Regions from separate parts of the Homo sapiens genome. Here region 2 is linked to region 1. A link means that fine-mapping ties the variant in region 1 to the expression of a gene that starts in the linked region. Tissue or cell type: fibroblasts. Region 1 holds a variant in brackets; the other region holds the start of a gene. All regions are shown on one strand. Distances are between the middles of the regions.

Region 1 (8,313 bases):
ACTATTCCAAAAAACCAAGGAGGAGTGATTAATGCCTCCCTAACTCATTCTGCAAAACCTGTGTTATCCTGATACCAAAACCTGGCAAACATGCAATGAAAAAACTACAGGCTAGTACCATTGATGAACATAGATGGAAAAATCCTCAACAAAATACTAGCAAACTGAATCCAGCAGCATATCAAAAAATTAATTCACCGTAATCAAATAGGCTTCACTCCTGAGAAAGGTTGGTTCAACATTAACAAATCAGTAAATGTCATTCACCACATACACAGAATTTAAAACAAAAAATGTGATCATTTTGATAGATGCTGAAAAATTATTCAATAAAATCAAACATCCCTTCATGATAAAAACCCTCAACAAACTGCATTGAAGGAACATACCTCAAAATAATAAACGCCATCTATGACAAACCCACAACCAACATCATACTGAACAGTGAAAAGCTGGAAACATTCCCCTTGAGGACTGGAACAGGAAAAGGATGCCCAGTCTCACTATTCCTATTCATCATAGTACTGGAAGTCTTAGAGCAATCAGGCAAGAGCAATAAATAAAAGGCATCCAAATAGTAAAAGAAGTCCAGTATCTCTCTTCACTGATGATATGATTCTACACCTAGAAAACCCTAAAGACTCCACCGGACAACTCCTAGAACTGATAAATTACTTAAGTAAAGTTTCAGGATTCAAAATTAATGCACAGCAATCAGTAGCATTTCTATAGACCAATAACATTCAAGCTGAGAGCCAAATCAAGAATGCAGTCCCATTTACAATAGCCATACACACACACACACACACACACACACACACACACACACACAAATAAAATACCTAGGAATACAGCTAACTAAGGAGATGAAAGATCTCTACAAGGATAATTACTAAACACTGCTGAAAGTGATCATATATTATGCAAACAAATGGGTAAACATTCCATGCTCACGGATTGGAAGACTAAATATTGTTAACATGGCCATACTGCCCAACACAATCTACAGATTTAATGCTATTCATATCAAACTGCCAATGTCATTATTCACAGAATTGGAAAATACTATTCTAAAATTAATATGGAACCAGAAAAGAGCCCAAATAGCCAAGGCAATTCCAAGAAAAAGAACAAATCTGAAGGCATCATATTGAGAGGTGACAATGTGCTGGTGGCCCTTGCTCACTCTCAGCACCTCCTTGCCCTCGGCGTCCGCTCTGGCCATGCTCGAGGAGCCCTTCAGCCTGCCACTGCACTGTGGGGGCCCCTCTCTGGGCTGTCCGAGGCCGGAGCCGGCTCCCTCTGCTTGCGGGGAGGTGTGGAGGGAGAGGCGCGGGCGGGAACCAGGGCTCCGCGCCACGTTCATGGGCCAGCGCGAGTTCCGGGTGGGCGTGGGCTCAGCAGGCCCTGCACTCAGGCCGGCGGGCGCTGCCGGCCCGGGCAGTGAGGGGCGTAGCACCCGGGCCAGCAGCTACAGAGGGTGCGCTGGGCCAGCACTGTGCTCGAATTCTCGCTGCCTCATCTGCCTCCCCCTGGGTCAGGGCTTGGGACCCGCAGCCCGCCATGCCTGAGCCTCCCCCCCACCCCCACCCCACCCCACCCTGCCCCGGCACCGTGGGGTCTTGCGCAGCCCGAGCCTCCCCGACGAGTGCTGCCCCCTGCTCCGCGGCGCCCAGTCCCATTGACCGCTCAAGGGCTGAGGAGTGCCGGTGCAAGGTGCGGGAGTGGCGGGCAGCTCCCCCTGCGGCCCAGGTGTGGGATCCACTAGGTGAAGCCCCTGGGCTCCAGAGTCTAGTGGGGACTTGGAGAACCTTTATGTGTAGCTGAGGGATTGTGAATACACCAATCAGCACTCTGTGTCTAGCTCAAGATTTGTAAACACACCAATCAGTACCCTGTGTCTAGCTGGAGGTTTGTAAATGCACCAATCAGTGCTGTGTCTAGCTCATCTAGTGGGGACTTGGAGAACTTTTGTGGCTAGCTCAGGGATTGTAAACACACCAATCAGCACCCTGTCAAAACGGACCAATCAGCTCTCTGTAAAACAGACCAATCAGCTCTCTGTAGAATGGACCAATCAGCAAGATGTGGGTGGGGCCAGATAAGGGAATAAAAGCAGGCTGCCCAAGCCAGCCGTGGCAACCCGCTTGGGTCCCTTTCCATGCTGTGGGAGGTTTGTTCTTTTGCTCTTTGCAGTAAATCTTTCTGCTGCTCAGTCTTTGGGTCCGTGCTGCCTTTGAGAGCTGTAACACTCACCATAAAAGTCTGCACCTTCACTCCTGAAGCCAGCGAGACCACCAACCCACCAGAAGGAGAAAACCCCGAACACATCTGAACATCAGAAGGAACAAACTCTGGACACTCCATCTTTAAGAACTGTAACACTCACCGCGAGGGTCCACAGCTTTATTCTTGAAGTCAGTGTGATCAAGAACCCACCAATTCCGGACACAGTATTACCCAACTTCACAGTACACTATGAGGCTACAGTAACCAGAGCAGCATGGTACTGGTACAAAAATAGACACATAGACTAATGGAACAGAGTAGAGAACCCAGAAATAAAGCCACACACCTACAAACATTTTAGCTTTGAAAAGTTGATGAAAATTAGTGGGAAAAGGGTCCTCGATTCAATAAATGGTCCTAGGATAGTTGGCTAGCCATATGCAAACAAAACTGGACCCCTACTTTTCACCACGTTCAAAACTTAACAAGATGGATTAAACAGTTAAGTATAAGACTTAAAACTATAAGAATTCTAGAAGAAAACCTAGGAAACACCGTTCTGGACATCAGTCTTGGGAAAGAATTTATGGCTAAGATCTCAAAAGCAATTGCATCAAAAACAAAAATTTGACGAGTGGGACCTAATTAATTAAAGAGTACAACAAAAGAAACTCGCAACAGAGTAAACAGACAGCCTACAGAATATACAGAAAATATTCACAAACTGTATATCCGACAAAATTCTAATATCCATAAGTAGCAAATAAATCAAGCAAAGAATAAATAACCCCATTAAAAAGTAGGCAAATGACATTAACAGGTACTTCTCAAAAGAAGACACGCAGGCGGCCAACAAGCATATAAAGAAATGTTCAACACTACTAATCCTTAGAGAAGTGCAAATCAAAACCAAAAGGAGACACCATCTCGTACCATTTAGAATGGCTGTTATTAAGTGAACAAACAACAGATGCTGGTGAGGCTGAGGAGGAAGGGGAACGCATATACACTGTTAGTGGGGATGTAAATTAGTTCAGCCCCTTTGGAAAGCAGTTTGTAGATGTTTCAAAGAACTTAAAACAGAACTACCATTCAACCCAGCAATCCCATTACTGGGTACATCTCCAGAGGAAAATAAATCGTTCTACCAAAAAGACACATGTATGTTCACTGCAGCACTATTCATAATAGCAAAGATGTAGAATCAGCCTAGGTGTCCATCAGTGGTGGATTGGTTAAAGAAAATGTGGTGCATATATACACCATGGAATACTACGCACCCATTAAAAATGAAATCGTCCCCTTTGGAGCAACATGGACTCAGCTGGAGGCCAAGCAAACTAACACAGAAACAGGAAACCAAACACTGCATGTTCTCTCTTATGAGTGGGAGCTAAACATTTGGTACTCATAGACATAAAGATGGCAGCAAGAGACACTGGGGATTTCTAGAGGGGAGAGGGAAGGAAAAAGTCAGGGAAGGGTTGGAAAACTATCTGGTACTATGCTAACTACCTGGGTAATGGGATCAGTCATAACCCCAACTTCAGCATTACATGATACACCTGTGTTGTAACCAATCTGCATGTGTACCCTCGAATCTAAAATAAAAGCTGAAATTCTTTAAAAATATATTTAATTAAATTTATCTTAGGCATAATTGCATCTAAAATTGCTTAATTGGAAAAAGTTGTAATTTTTACAAGGAAATGTATTCTCCCTCCCCCTCTCCCTCATCTCCCTCTGATGCCAAGCCGAGGCTGGACTGTACTGCCTCCATCTTGGCTCACTGCAACCTCCCTGCCTGATTCTCCTGCCTCAGCCTGCCTAGTGCCTGGGATTGCAGGCGCGCGCCGCCACGCCTGACTGGTTTTCGTATTTTTTGGTGGAGACGGGGTTTCGCTGTGTTGGCCGGGCTGGTCTCCAGCTCCTGACCTCGAGTGATCTGCCAGCCCCGGCCTCCCGAGGTGCCGGGATTGCAGATGGAGTCTCGCTCACTTAGTGCTCAATGTTGCCCAGGCTGGAGTGCAGTGGCATGATCTCGGCTCACTACAACCTCCACCTCCCAGCCGCCTGCCTTGCCCTCCCAAAGTGCCGAGATTGCAGCCTCTGCCCGGCCGCCACCCCGTCTAGGAAGTGAGGAGCATCTCTGCCTGGCCGCACATCATCTGGGATGTGAGGAGCCCCTCTGCCCAGCCGCCCAGTCTGGGAAGTGAGGAACACCTCTTCCCGGCCGTCATCCCGTCTAGGAAGTGAGGAGCGTCTCTGCCCGGCTACCCACCTTCTGGGATGTGGGGAGCGCCTTTGCCCCGC[C/T]GCCCCGTCTGGGCTGTGAAGAGCACCTCTGCCCCGCCGCGACCCCGTCTGGGAACTGAGGAGTGTCTCTGCCCCGCCACCACCCCGTCTGAGAGGTGAGGAGCGTCTCTGACCGGCTGCCCCGTCTGAGAAGTGAGGAGCCCCTCCGCCCAGCAGCCGCCCCATCTGGGAAGTGAGGAGCCCCTCCGCCCGGCAGCCGCCCCGTCCGGGAAGTGAGGAGCGTCTCCGCCCGGCAGCCGTCCTGTCCGGGAGGTGGGGGGCAGCCCTCGCCAGGCCAGCCGTCCCGTCGGGGAGGTGGGGGGCAGCCCCTGCCCGGCCAGCCGCCCCGTCCAGGAGGTAGGGGGCAGCCCCTGCCCGGCCAGCTGCCCCGTCCGGGAGGTGGGGGGCGCCTCTGCCCGGCCGCCACCCCGTCTGGGAGGTGTACCCAACAGCTCATTGAGAACGGGCCATGATGACGATGGCGGTTTTGTCGAATAGAAAAGGGGGAAATGTGGGGAAAAGAAAGAGAGATCAGATTGTTACTGTGTCTGTGTAGAAAGAAGTGGGCATAGGAGACTCCATTTTGTTCTGTACTAAGAAAAATTCTTCTGCCTTGGGATGCTGTTAATCTATAACCTTACCCCCAACCCCGTGCTCTCTGAAACATGTGCTGTGTCCACTAAGGGTTAAATGGATTAAGGGCGGTGCAAGATGTGCTTTGTTAAACAGACCCTGCAAGGCAGCATGTTCGTTAAGAGTCATCACCACTCCCGAATCTCAAGTACCCAGGGACACAAACACTGCGGAAGGCGGCAGGGCCCTCTGCCTAGGAAAACCAGAGACCTTTGTTCACAAGTTTATCTGCTGACCTTCCCTCCACTATTGTCCTGTGACCCCGCCAAATCCCCCTCTCCGAGAAACACCCAAGAATGATCAATAAATACTAAAAAAATTTAAAAAAACAACAAAAAAGCAAACAAACAAACAAACAAAAAAATTCAGTGAGTTAATTAATGAGAATTGTCCTGCTCACAATAGGTGCTCAAGAAATGGTTACTACCATGATTCTGGTTGTGAAGTGAAATTGCCAACACCTGAGACAGAGCTCATTAAATGTTTACCAAACTGAAGAATAAAAAAAAAAAAAAAAAAGAAAGAAAATGTATTGTAATAATTCTAAATTGCTTATTTATTTTTGATTAAGTAATCTTTGTGTTATCTGCATACTTTTTGAAACATGGATATAAATTGCCTGTATTATCTAAATAACATTTTTGTTTTTTTAGGGCACATTAAATGATCGCACGAATGCAATTGATTTTCTAATGGATAGGAATAATGTTGTACCCCGTATAAATACTTTGATTTTGCGTACTAACCAGCAGTACCTCAATTTAATATCTACATCAGGTAAAATAATCCTATACTGTTCTACAAATGTTTATTGAGTTGTGAATTCTTTATTTATATTTAACGTTTAATTTGAAATTTTTCAGTAACTGCTGATGTTGAAGATTTCTCTACTTTCTTTTTCTTGGATTCACAAGATAAGAGTGCTGTAATTGCAAAGAACATGTATTATTTAACCCAAGACGGTAATAAGCATATTTTATTTACCTGAATTCTTAAAGTGATAGAAACTTGTAATGTTCATAAGGCAGTTGTATAATAAATTTTAATATGTTGCTATTTTTGAGTAGAGGCCTAGATTTCAATTTTAGAGTTTGTAAATTTTTTAGTATTTAACGTGTGCTGAGAAAACAATGCCTTCTATTCTAACTTTGTTTATCTTATTTTTGCCTTTTTTAAACAAACTATTTTCACCTTTTTAAGAAAAGAATAAAATCTTTTCAGTACTATGTAAACTATCTTATAATGTATACAGAAAAGTACAATTACCAGATCAGAGAAGATAATAATTCTTCTGCATTCTGATTAAATAACATGCAGATATTTTGCTTAAGGTAGGGGTTACAACCAGAAGAGAGGAGACCAAGATAGTAACACACTTGGGAAAAAGGATTTAGCCAAACTGAGAAGTCTGCAGTGGGACCGTAGATTTGTTAGGGTACAATTAACTATTCAGATAGATGAATATAATTCGAATTTGGTGGTTTTTGTTTTGCTTTGCTTTGTTTTGTTTGGCCTGCTTTGCTCTAGAAATAAAAACAAGAGCCAATGAGTAAAAGATTAAAGAAGGCTGATTTTGGTCTCAGTAGGGAAGTGGTAATTTTCTAACAGTGAGAGTTCATTAAACAGATGGAATGAACTATGTTGTAAGGGGCAAACTTTTATATAGGAGAGAGATTTAAAGCAAAGGCCACACAACCAGTTCTTGTAAATGCTGTAGATTAAATCCGAGTTTCTACCAGATGGCTCCTGGATTACTGTCTAACAGATTCCATGATTTTATGTTCATAAAGGAGTCTGGCTACATATTGCTGTTTTCTATATCTACTAATAAGCTTGATTGTTACGGTTTTACATATATTTGGGACATAAATTTTTTTTTTTTAAACAAATGTAGCTAGAAGGCAGATTTGCTTACCAACACTGGGAGTTTTATATAAGCTTATATAATGAGTTACTCTTCTAACCGGAAGCTTTATATAAGCTTGTATAATGAATTACCCTTGTAGCATTTTTATATGTAATTTTATATGTATTTATTTTTGTATGTATATATACGTACTTGCATGTATACATTCACACATAACATTTTAAAAATCTTTGCTTTTCAGAAATATTATTTTAATTTTTTTTAATGTGTTAACTGCACATGTTCCCCTGCTTTTGTTTTATTTTTTAAAAAAAAAGTTAATTTGAGTAAACTGTTTGAAACTTTCAGATGAGAGTATAATTTCTGCAGTCACTCTCTGGATTATTGCAGATTTTGATAAGCCTTCTGGGAGAAAACTTCTTTTTAATGCATTAAAGCACATGGTGAGTACCTAGATATTCTTACTAACAATTTTAATTTATTTCAATTTAAGGAAAGCAATATGAAGAACATACATTAAATATTTTCCCCTCCATGTTAATGTTTCAGTTAAGTAGACGAAGGAATTCAGATTTAGTCTTCATGTAAAACAGGTAACTTTGCTCAGGAAAAGAAAAACCTACCTGTTTTCTATGACTCGTGACATATATTCTCTGGTAGTCCTTGTGATCAGACATACACATACCACATATTGATTACAAATAGGGTATTAAACAAAGTAAGTAACTCTAGACCCTACCACCACTTCAGTGACCCGAAATCCACTATTTACCAACAATAGCTAGTAATAGCAATTTTTGGTCACATAATTAAGCAGCATTTTCTTTCCCTGATTATTTAAGAAAAACTAAGTAAATTTATCTCACTGAAGAATATTTTAAGCCTTAAGTCAACATTAAATTTCTTGTTATTGATTATAAACCAGTATACTTCAAGAGGATATATTTCTGTATATAAAAGTAGTCTTTCATAACTGTCTGTATTTCTAAGTTAATATATAAGTTTATCTAGATAAAAAATACTTAAGAAACATAAACCAAAATATTTTATGAAATTGTTTTTATATTAGCTAAGTATAAATTTATTGCTGTATAACAAATTACCACTTGGTGGTAAACAGTGAACATTTATCTTAACAGTTTCTGAGGTTCAAGAATTTAGGAGCAATTTACCTGAGTGATTCTATCTTAGATTCTCTTATAAGGCTATATTTAAGATTTTGGTTATAGTTGCAGTGATCCGAAGGCTTCACTGGAGCAGGAGGACAAGCTTCTAAGATGACTCACTTACAT
Region 2 (8,260 bases), 120 kb before region 1:
TGAATATACTTCACACTATTGAGCTGTACACTTAAAAATGGTTAAAATGGTAAATTTTATGTGTATTTTACCACCATTAAAAATACTTCGATTTAACCATATAAGTATAGATGGTTGTTGTTAAATAGCAAATCTCAAGTTCTTACATCATCCAAAATGATTAATTTAAAAATTATATATTTCACATCCTTTATTTGCTATTTGAAAGCCACTGTAGTAAAAAGCTCCACTAAAAAAATTCATCAAACATACTGGGATTAGACATTTGTGAGGCATTTATTATCTATCTTAAATAAAATATGTAAACCTGTAAATATCAAACTTGCAGACCCTTAAATTTTAAAAAAAGCTATAAAGAGTTAAGCTTAAAACTAAACATAAAAAACCTAAACCATACTCGTTTGATTATGATTTTGGTATAATCTTGTCTAGGGAATAGTGATGTAACAAATTACATAAGTCTCTAAATTTTTCCCAACTGGAATGAGTAGAAAACTTTTGTGTATTTAAGATATTTAAATAATATCCAGGCACGGTGGCTCATGTCTGTAATCCCGACGCTTTGAAAGGCAGGGGTGCACAGATCGTTTGAGCCCAGGTGTTCAAGACCAACCTGAGCAACATGGTGAAACTCCACATCTACAGAAAATACAAAAAATTAGCCAGGCATGGCGGCATGTGCCTGTGGTCCCAGCTACTCAAGAGAACCACTGCACTCCAACCTGGGCGACAGAGACTCTATATCAAAAAAAAAAAAACAAAAAAACAAAAAAACAAAAAAAACAACTCCACCCTGGGTGACAGAGAGAGAATCTATATCAAAAAAGAAAAAAAGGAAAAGAAAAAGAAAAAGATCTTTAATTTAATTTATTTATTTTTGAGATGGAGTCCCATCTGTTGCCCAGGCTGGAGTGCAGTGGTGCAATCTCGGCTCACTGCGACCTCTGCATCCTGGGCTCAAGTGATTCTCCTGCCTCAGCCTCCTGAGTAGCTGAGACTACAGGCACCTGTCATCACACCCCGCTAATTTTCGTGTTTTTAGTAGAGATGAGGTTTCACAATGTTGGCCAGGCTGGTCTCAAACTCCTGACCACACGCGATCCACCTGCCTCGGCCTCCCAAAGTGCTGGGATTACAAGCATGAGCCACCACGCCAGGACAAAAGATCTTTTAATAATAAAACGAGAATAGGAGAATAGGGTCTTTCTTATAAGGGAAATCTGGAAAACCTACAGAATAATACTTTTAAAAGTGAGTTCACCCACTGGATTTTATGTAGGCTTAGAAAATTAAAATTTTATTATATAATGCAATAATTTGGCAGTAACTTTGTACTCATGTCATGCCATTATTATCATTAAATACATATCATTAAATTCAAGATGATTTATTCTGTTAAACACAAGATTCTTATTATAAAGCACTCATTAATCACTTCTTCCACATATGATAGAAACTGCTACCTTCATCAATTTTATTCCTTTTATCCTGCAGTGAATAACTTTTGTATTGTATTTTGCTAAAAAGACTTAGGTAGAGTTAGGTCCGTAGTTCAAAGCCAATCTGTGCCAAAGGGTTATTGATAGTGGATTTTAAAATACTTTGCTACTCCACTGACTGGAGTGGACTTTGCTAATTTACTCAATTTTTGCATTTTAGTATTTTTTTATCTGCACATAGGAATCACATATAGAAGGAATCTTAAATATCACATTGTCTTATCCTTTTGCTCTGTAGATGGGGAAACAAGCTTGGGGATCATCATTCTGAGGAATGTTTCAAATTAAAATTTCTAGGAGAACACCATGTAAGATAAAATGTATAACAAATATATTCATAGATGGCCTAGATTAGATTAATTTTATTCTCTTTAAAAGAGAAATGAGCATTCTCACTATTCTGAACTCACATATAGTGAAATTTTTACTAATATACATTTTATTAGTGTCCTTTAATAGTCTATTTAATGTGCCTTTTATATGGCCAATTATTTCTTAAAGATTTGCAGTCCATTGGATATGCTGACATGTAAGACATTCACTGTCAATATTTTATTTCCTTAATCCCACAATCTCAATAAAAATTTCGGTCTAAATATGAGTGGAAATGGGGAGTTAATTAAAGCAAATAATTGTGAAAGATTCGTAATGTATTTTTCTCGTATACACTATGGATAGAAATGAAGTGCATTTGCCTTAGCTTTCTACATTCTTTCCATAAAGCAAGGGTTCTTCAATCTTCATGGAGTCCCCAAATAACATGTGAATGTGAAGTATTGTGCTAGGTACTGCACGGGATGCCAAAGATGAACAAGGCATGAGTTCTGGGGGAATATACTATCTCTCACAGGAGAAATAAGTAAGTAGCGTACTCAAGTATTAAAGTGAGAACTTAAGTGCTATATGGCAGTTACAATAAAGAGGAAATTTAAAGTAAGGATAGATCATACCAAGTAGGATAAATCAGGAAATGAAGGCTAAACTTTGGAAGTGAGAAATTATTCTGGAAATTCGTGGAACTGCTTAGCGGAATAGGGTTTTCTAAGGAAGGGTACTGACTAAGCAAATGAAACGAAAAAAGGGAATGACTATGTTTCCGCAACTTCAAGAGATCCAGCTTCCCTGCAGGGCAAAGGAGTAACAGGAGAGAAAAAAAGCAATGAATCCGTGCATCCGCTAAACTCTTTTACCATATATTTTACTCTGACAAAACAACTATCACGTATTGGCCTTTTGTTTGTTTGTTTTTTTGAGACACGGTCTCCCTCTTTCGCCCAGGTTGGAGGGCAGTGGCGCAATCACCGTTTTCTGCAGCCTCTACCTCCTCGGCTTAAGCTACCTTCCCGCCTCGACCTTCCAAAGTGCTGGGACTACAGGCGTGAGCCACCATGCTCAGGCTTATTGGCACTTTTCTGTGCACTTTTAAATGTAATCCTCTAAATCACTCTTCTCCACCTTTCCTGTGCATAGGAATCACCTGTGGTTCCCGTTAAATTGGAGATCTTGATTCATTAGGTCTGGGGCGGGGCCTGAGCTTCTGCATTTCCATTGAGCTCACAGCTGAAGCCTACCCTGGACCACACCTTCCAATGGAAAAGGCTCCAGTGTGATTTCTAGCCACTAGTATTATCTGCGAACTTGGGAGAAATAAAATGCAAGTTCTCGGCCCCCGCAAGGGCTCTACTGAATCCGAAACACTGTGGGGAGGCCCACCACTCTGCAGTGTTTTAACAAGCAAGTGGTTAAAGTTTGAGAGCCACCCGTAAGTCACGGGTTTCCTAACATGATTGGACACTGGAATCACCTGCGGATTTTTTTTTTTTTTTTTTTTTTGAGACGGAGTCTCGCTCTGTTGCCCAGGCTGGAGTGCAGTGGCGGGATCTCGGCTCACTGCAAGCTCCGCCTCCTGGGTTCACGCCATTCTCCTGCCTCAGCCTCCCAAGTAGCTGGGACTACAGGCGCCCGCCACTACGCCCGGCTAATTTTTTGTATTTTTAGTAGAGACGGGGTTTCACCGTTTTAGCCAGGATGGTCTCGATCTCCTGACCTCGTGATCCGCCCGCCTCGGCCTCCCAAAGTGCTGGGATTACAGGCGTGAGCCACCGCGCCCGGCCTGCGGATTTTAACTAATACTACTGATGCCGCATCTCACCCCCCCTCCCGAGATTCTCAGGTACGGGGCGTGGCCTTGGCGGCGGCCTTATAAAAGCTCTCCCAGGTGATTCCAACCTGTAGTAACACTTGAGAACTGCGTGAGGTGGGGACTTCAACTTTAACTGGACTTATTTTCCTCCTATGTAAAAGGTGGACAATATGCAAGTGGTCCTGACTTTGCTTCCAGATTTTGGCAACTCCAGAGCCCTAGTTCGGTCTGGAGAGCCAGCTTCCCGCCCCGTGTCCTAAGGCCTCTGTCCGAGAACCCAAAGTCCTGGGAATGGACCCGCGGGAGCGGACCCGCGGGAGCATCTGTGACGCCGCTCAGCAACCCGGCGCCGCCCCGGCGGCTCCGACGTGGCCCAGTGTCCGGCTGGCGTGGGCTCTCCAGGCCGCACCCACTAAACCGCGCCGGAGCGGGACACGCATGCGCCGGTCTGGACCCGGCACCCAGTAACGGACTCGAGCTCCTCCCACCGGAAGTGGGCAGCCGCGCAGCGGGAAGAGCCGGCCGAAGCGTGGCGGCCACAGACTGTGGGTACCGGGTCCGAGGGACTCGCGCTTTTCTCTCCGTGCCATGGCGCCAGCGAAAGCCACGAACGTGGTGCGGCTGCTACTAGGCTCCACAGCGCTGTGGCTTTCGCAGCTCGGCTCCGGGACGGTCGCCGCGTCCAAGTCGGTGACTGCCCACTTGGCCGCGAAGTGGCCCGAGACCCCGCTGCTGCTGGAGGCAAGGTGGGTGCGGGCCGGGCCCTCGTCCGGGCGGGTGTGGGCGCGCTGCCACCCTCAGCCGCGCTTTCTTCGTGCTCGCAGCGGGTGTCTGGCTCCCACCCGGGTTCTCCAGACGCCCCCGCTCTGGCCCTGAGCATCACCACCTCCTTCCTTCCCGACCCGGGGCGGCTTCTCGGTTCCCGTGCAGCACTCACTTGCAGTTCCTTTCCCCCTCAGTCTTACTTTACCTACGATTTTTAAAGCTTCCCTGCCCTGCTTTAATACGTTGGGATGTATTAGCATTTACGCGTGGCACTTAACGCAAGAGCTTCTACTGGGGTAGGCAGTTCTGTTCAGACAGTGCTTAAAGTACCTAGTTTCGTAATGATGACATCATACCATCAGCTCCTAGGCTTACTATGGGGAGGGCAGCTTCCTGCAAGGTAATATTTTTCCTGTATCTCTTCCAACGGAATTAGTTCATGACCTGTCATTTACTCTGCAGAACAAAACTTGTAGCTATTGCATTTTGCCCTTTAGTATTCTAGTTGAGTAAAATTAGAAAGTTCTTTCTCTTAGCAAAAATGAAGTTTTACACCAATGACTTAATGGCTGTTCACCACAGCAACAGTGTGTGTCCCTAAAAAGAGACTCCATGACTCCACATAAGTTCATGTATTTGATGCTAAAAGTTCTTTTTTTTTTTCATTTCTATAGTTTATTGGGGAACAGGTGGTGTTTGGTTACATGAGTAAGTTCTTTAGTGGTGATTTCTGAGATTTTGGTACACCCATCACCCCATCAGTATATACACTGCACCCAATTTGTAGTCTTTTATCCCTCACTCCCTTCTCAACCTTTCCCCCGAGTCCCCGAAGTCCATTGTGTCAATCTTATGCCTTTGCATCCTCATAGCTTAGTTCCCACATATCAGTGAGAACATACTATATTTGGTTTTCCATTTCTGACTTACTTCACTTAGAATAATAGTCTCTAATCTCATCCAGGTTGCTGTGAATGCCATTAATTGATTCCTTTTTATGGCTGAGTAGTGTTCCATCATATATATGCCACAGTTTATCCACTCGTTGATTGATGGGTATTTGGATTGGTTCCACATTTTTGCACTTGTGAATTGTGCTGCTATAAACATACTTGTGCAACTATCTTTTTCATGACTTCTTTTCCTCTGGGTAGATACCTAGTAGTGGGATTGCTGGATCAAATGGTAGATCTACTCTTAGTACTTTGAGGACTCCCCACACTGTTTTCCATAGTGGTTATACTAGTTTACATTCCCACCAGCAGTGTAGAAGTGTTCCCTGTTCGCTGCATCCACGCCAACATCTATTATTTATTTTTATTTTTTTATTATGGCCATTCTTGCAGGAGTAAGGTGGTATCGCATTGTGGTTTTGATTTGTGTTTCCCTGATCATTAGTATGTTGAGCATTTTTTCATGTTAGCCATTTATATATCTTTTGAGAATTGTCTATTCATGTCCTTAGCCCACTTTTTGATGGGACTGTTTTTTTTTTCCTGCTGATTTGAGTTCCTTGTAGATTCTGGATATTAATCCTTTTTCAGATGTATAGATTGTGAAGATTTTCTCCCGTTTTGTGGGTTGTCTGTTTACTCTGCTGACTATTCCTTTTGCCGTGCAAAAGCTGTTTAGTTTAATTAAGTCCCAGCTATTTTTTTTATTATTATACTTTAAGTTCTAGGGTACATGTGCACAACGTGCAGGTACATAGATATACATGTGCCATGTTGGTGTGCTGCACCCATTAACTCATCATTTACATTAGGTGTATCTCCTAATGCTATCCCCCGCTCCCCCAACCCCACAACAGGCCCTGGTGTGTGATGTTCCCCATTGTGTGTCCAAGTATTCTCATTGTTCAGTTCCCACCTATGAGTGAGAACATGAGGTGTTTGGTTTTCTATCCTTGTGATAGTTTGCTGAGAATGATGGTTTCCAGCTGCATGCATGTCCCTACAAAGGACATGAACTCATCCTTTTTTATGGCTGCATAGTATTCCGTGGTGTATATGTGCCACATTTTCTTAATCCAGTCTATCATTGACGGACATTTGGGTTGGTTCCAAGTCTTTGCTATTGTGAATAGTGCCGCAATAAACATGTGTGTGCATGTGTCTTTATAGCAGCATGATTTATAATCCTTTGGGTATATACCCAGTAATGGGATGGCTGGGTCAAATGGTATTTCTAGTCCTACATCCTTGAGGAATCGCCACAATGTCTTCCACAATGGTTGAACTAGTTTACAGTCCCACCAACAGTGTAAAAGTGTCCCTATTTCTCCACATCCTCTCCAGCACCTGTTGTTTCCTGACTTTTTAATGATCGCCCTTCTAACTGGTGTGAGATGGTATCTCATTGTGGTTTTGATTTGCATTTCTCTGATGGCCAGTGATGATGAGAATTTTTTCATGTGTCTGTTGGTTGCATAAATGTCTTCTTTTGAGAAGTGTCTGTTCATATCCTTCACCCACTTTTTGATGGGGTCGTTTAATTTTTTTCTTGTAAATTTGTTTAAGTTCTTTGTAGATTCTGGATATTAGCCCTTGGTCAGATGGGTAGATTGCAAAAATTTTCTCCCATTCTGTAGGTTGCCTGTTCACTCTGATGGTAGTTTCTTTTGCTGTGCAGATGCTCTTTACTTTAATTAGATCCCATTTGTCAGTTTTGGCTTTTGTTGCCATTGCTTTTGGTGTTTTAGACATGAAGTCCTTGCCCATGCCTATGTCCTGAATGGTATTGCCTAGGTTTTCTTCTAGAGTTTTTATGGTTTTAGATCTAACATTTAAGTCTTTAGTCCATCTTGAATTAATTTTTGTATAAGGTGTAAGGAAGGGATCCAGTTTCAGCTTTCTACATATGGCTAGCCAGTTTTTCCAGCACCATTTATTAAATAGGGAATCCTTTCCCCATTTCTTGTTTTTGTCAGATTTGTCAAAGATCAGATGGTTGTAGATGTGTGGTATTATTTCTGAGGGCTCTGCTCTGTTCCATTGGTCTATATCTCTATTTTGGCACCAGTACCATGGTGTTTTGGTTACTGTAGCCTTATAGTATAGTTTGAAGTCAGGTAGCGTGATGCCTCCAGCTTTGTTCTTTTTGCTTAGGATTGTCTTGGCAATGCGAGCTCTCTTTTGTATCCATATGAACTTTAAAGTAGTTTTTTCCAATTTTGTGAAGAAAGTCATTGGTAGCTTGATGGGGATGGCATTGAATCTATAAATTACCTTGGGCAGTATGGCCGTTTTCACGATACTGATTCTTCCTATCCATGAGCATGGAATATTCTTCCATTTGTTTGTGTCCTCTTTTATTTTTTTGAGCAGTGGTTTGTAGTTCTCTTTGAAGAGGTCCTTCACATCCCTTGTAAGTTGGATTCCTAGGTATTTTATTCTCTTTGAAGCAATTGTGAATGGGAGTTCACTCATGATTTGGCCCTCTGTTTGTCTGTTATTGGCATAGAGCAATGCTTGTGATTTTTGTACATTGATTTTGTATCCTGAGACTTTGCTGAAGTTGCTTATCAGCTTAAGGAGATTTTGGGCTGAGATGATGGGGTTTTCTAAATATACAATCATATCATCTGCCAACAGGGACAATTTGACTTCCTCTTTTCCTAATTGAATACCCTTTATTTCTTTCTCCTGCCTGATTGCCCTGGCCAGAACTTCCAACACTGTGTTGAATAGGAGTGGTGAGAGAGGGCATCCTTGTCTTGTGCCAGTTTTCAAAGGGAATGCTTCCAGATTTTGCCCATTCAGTATGATATTGGCTGCAGATTTGTCATAAATAGCTCTTATTATTTTGAGATATGTCCCATCAATACCTAATTTGAGAGTTTTTAGCATGAAGG

Which allele goes with the higher level. Alleles are on the strand shown, and positions count from the first base shown. SD is a standard deviation of normalised expression in the study named.
For the expression in fibroblasts of the gene that starts at base 4,142 in region 2, allele T in region 1 goes with a higher level than allele C (small effect, 0.33 SD a copy in GTEx).

What was found. PIP is the estimated chance that this variant, and not a neighbour inherited with it, causes the effect.
Region 2: it holds the start of UGGT2, and the variant in region 1 is fine-mapped to the expression of UGGT2 in fibroblasts (GTEx, PIP 0.93).

Annotation. Positions count from the first base shown.
Region 1 is chr13:95,924,831-95,933,143 of GRCh38, reverse strand. It overlaps UGGT2 (UDP-glucose glycoprotein glucosyltransferase 2), which reads left to right. Exons shown (of 39, transcript NM_020121.4): 18 at 5,808-5,931; 19 at 6,018-6,116; 20 at 7,370-7,464. Among named protein-coding and RNA genes, the nearest start is that of UGGT2, 120 kb to the left of the region's middle. The variant C/T (reference allele first, on the strand shown) is at 4,543.
Region 2 is chr13:96,049,283-96,057,542 of GRCh38, reverse strand. It overlaps UGGT2 (UDP-glucose glycoprotein glucosyltransferase 2), which reads left to right and starts at 4,142. Exons shown (of 39, transcript NM_020121.4): 1 at 4,142-4,388. The coding sequence starts at 4,231. RefSeq lists an enhancer at 3,881-4,380.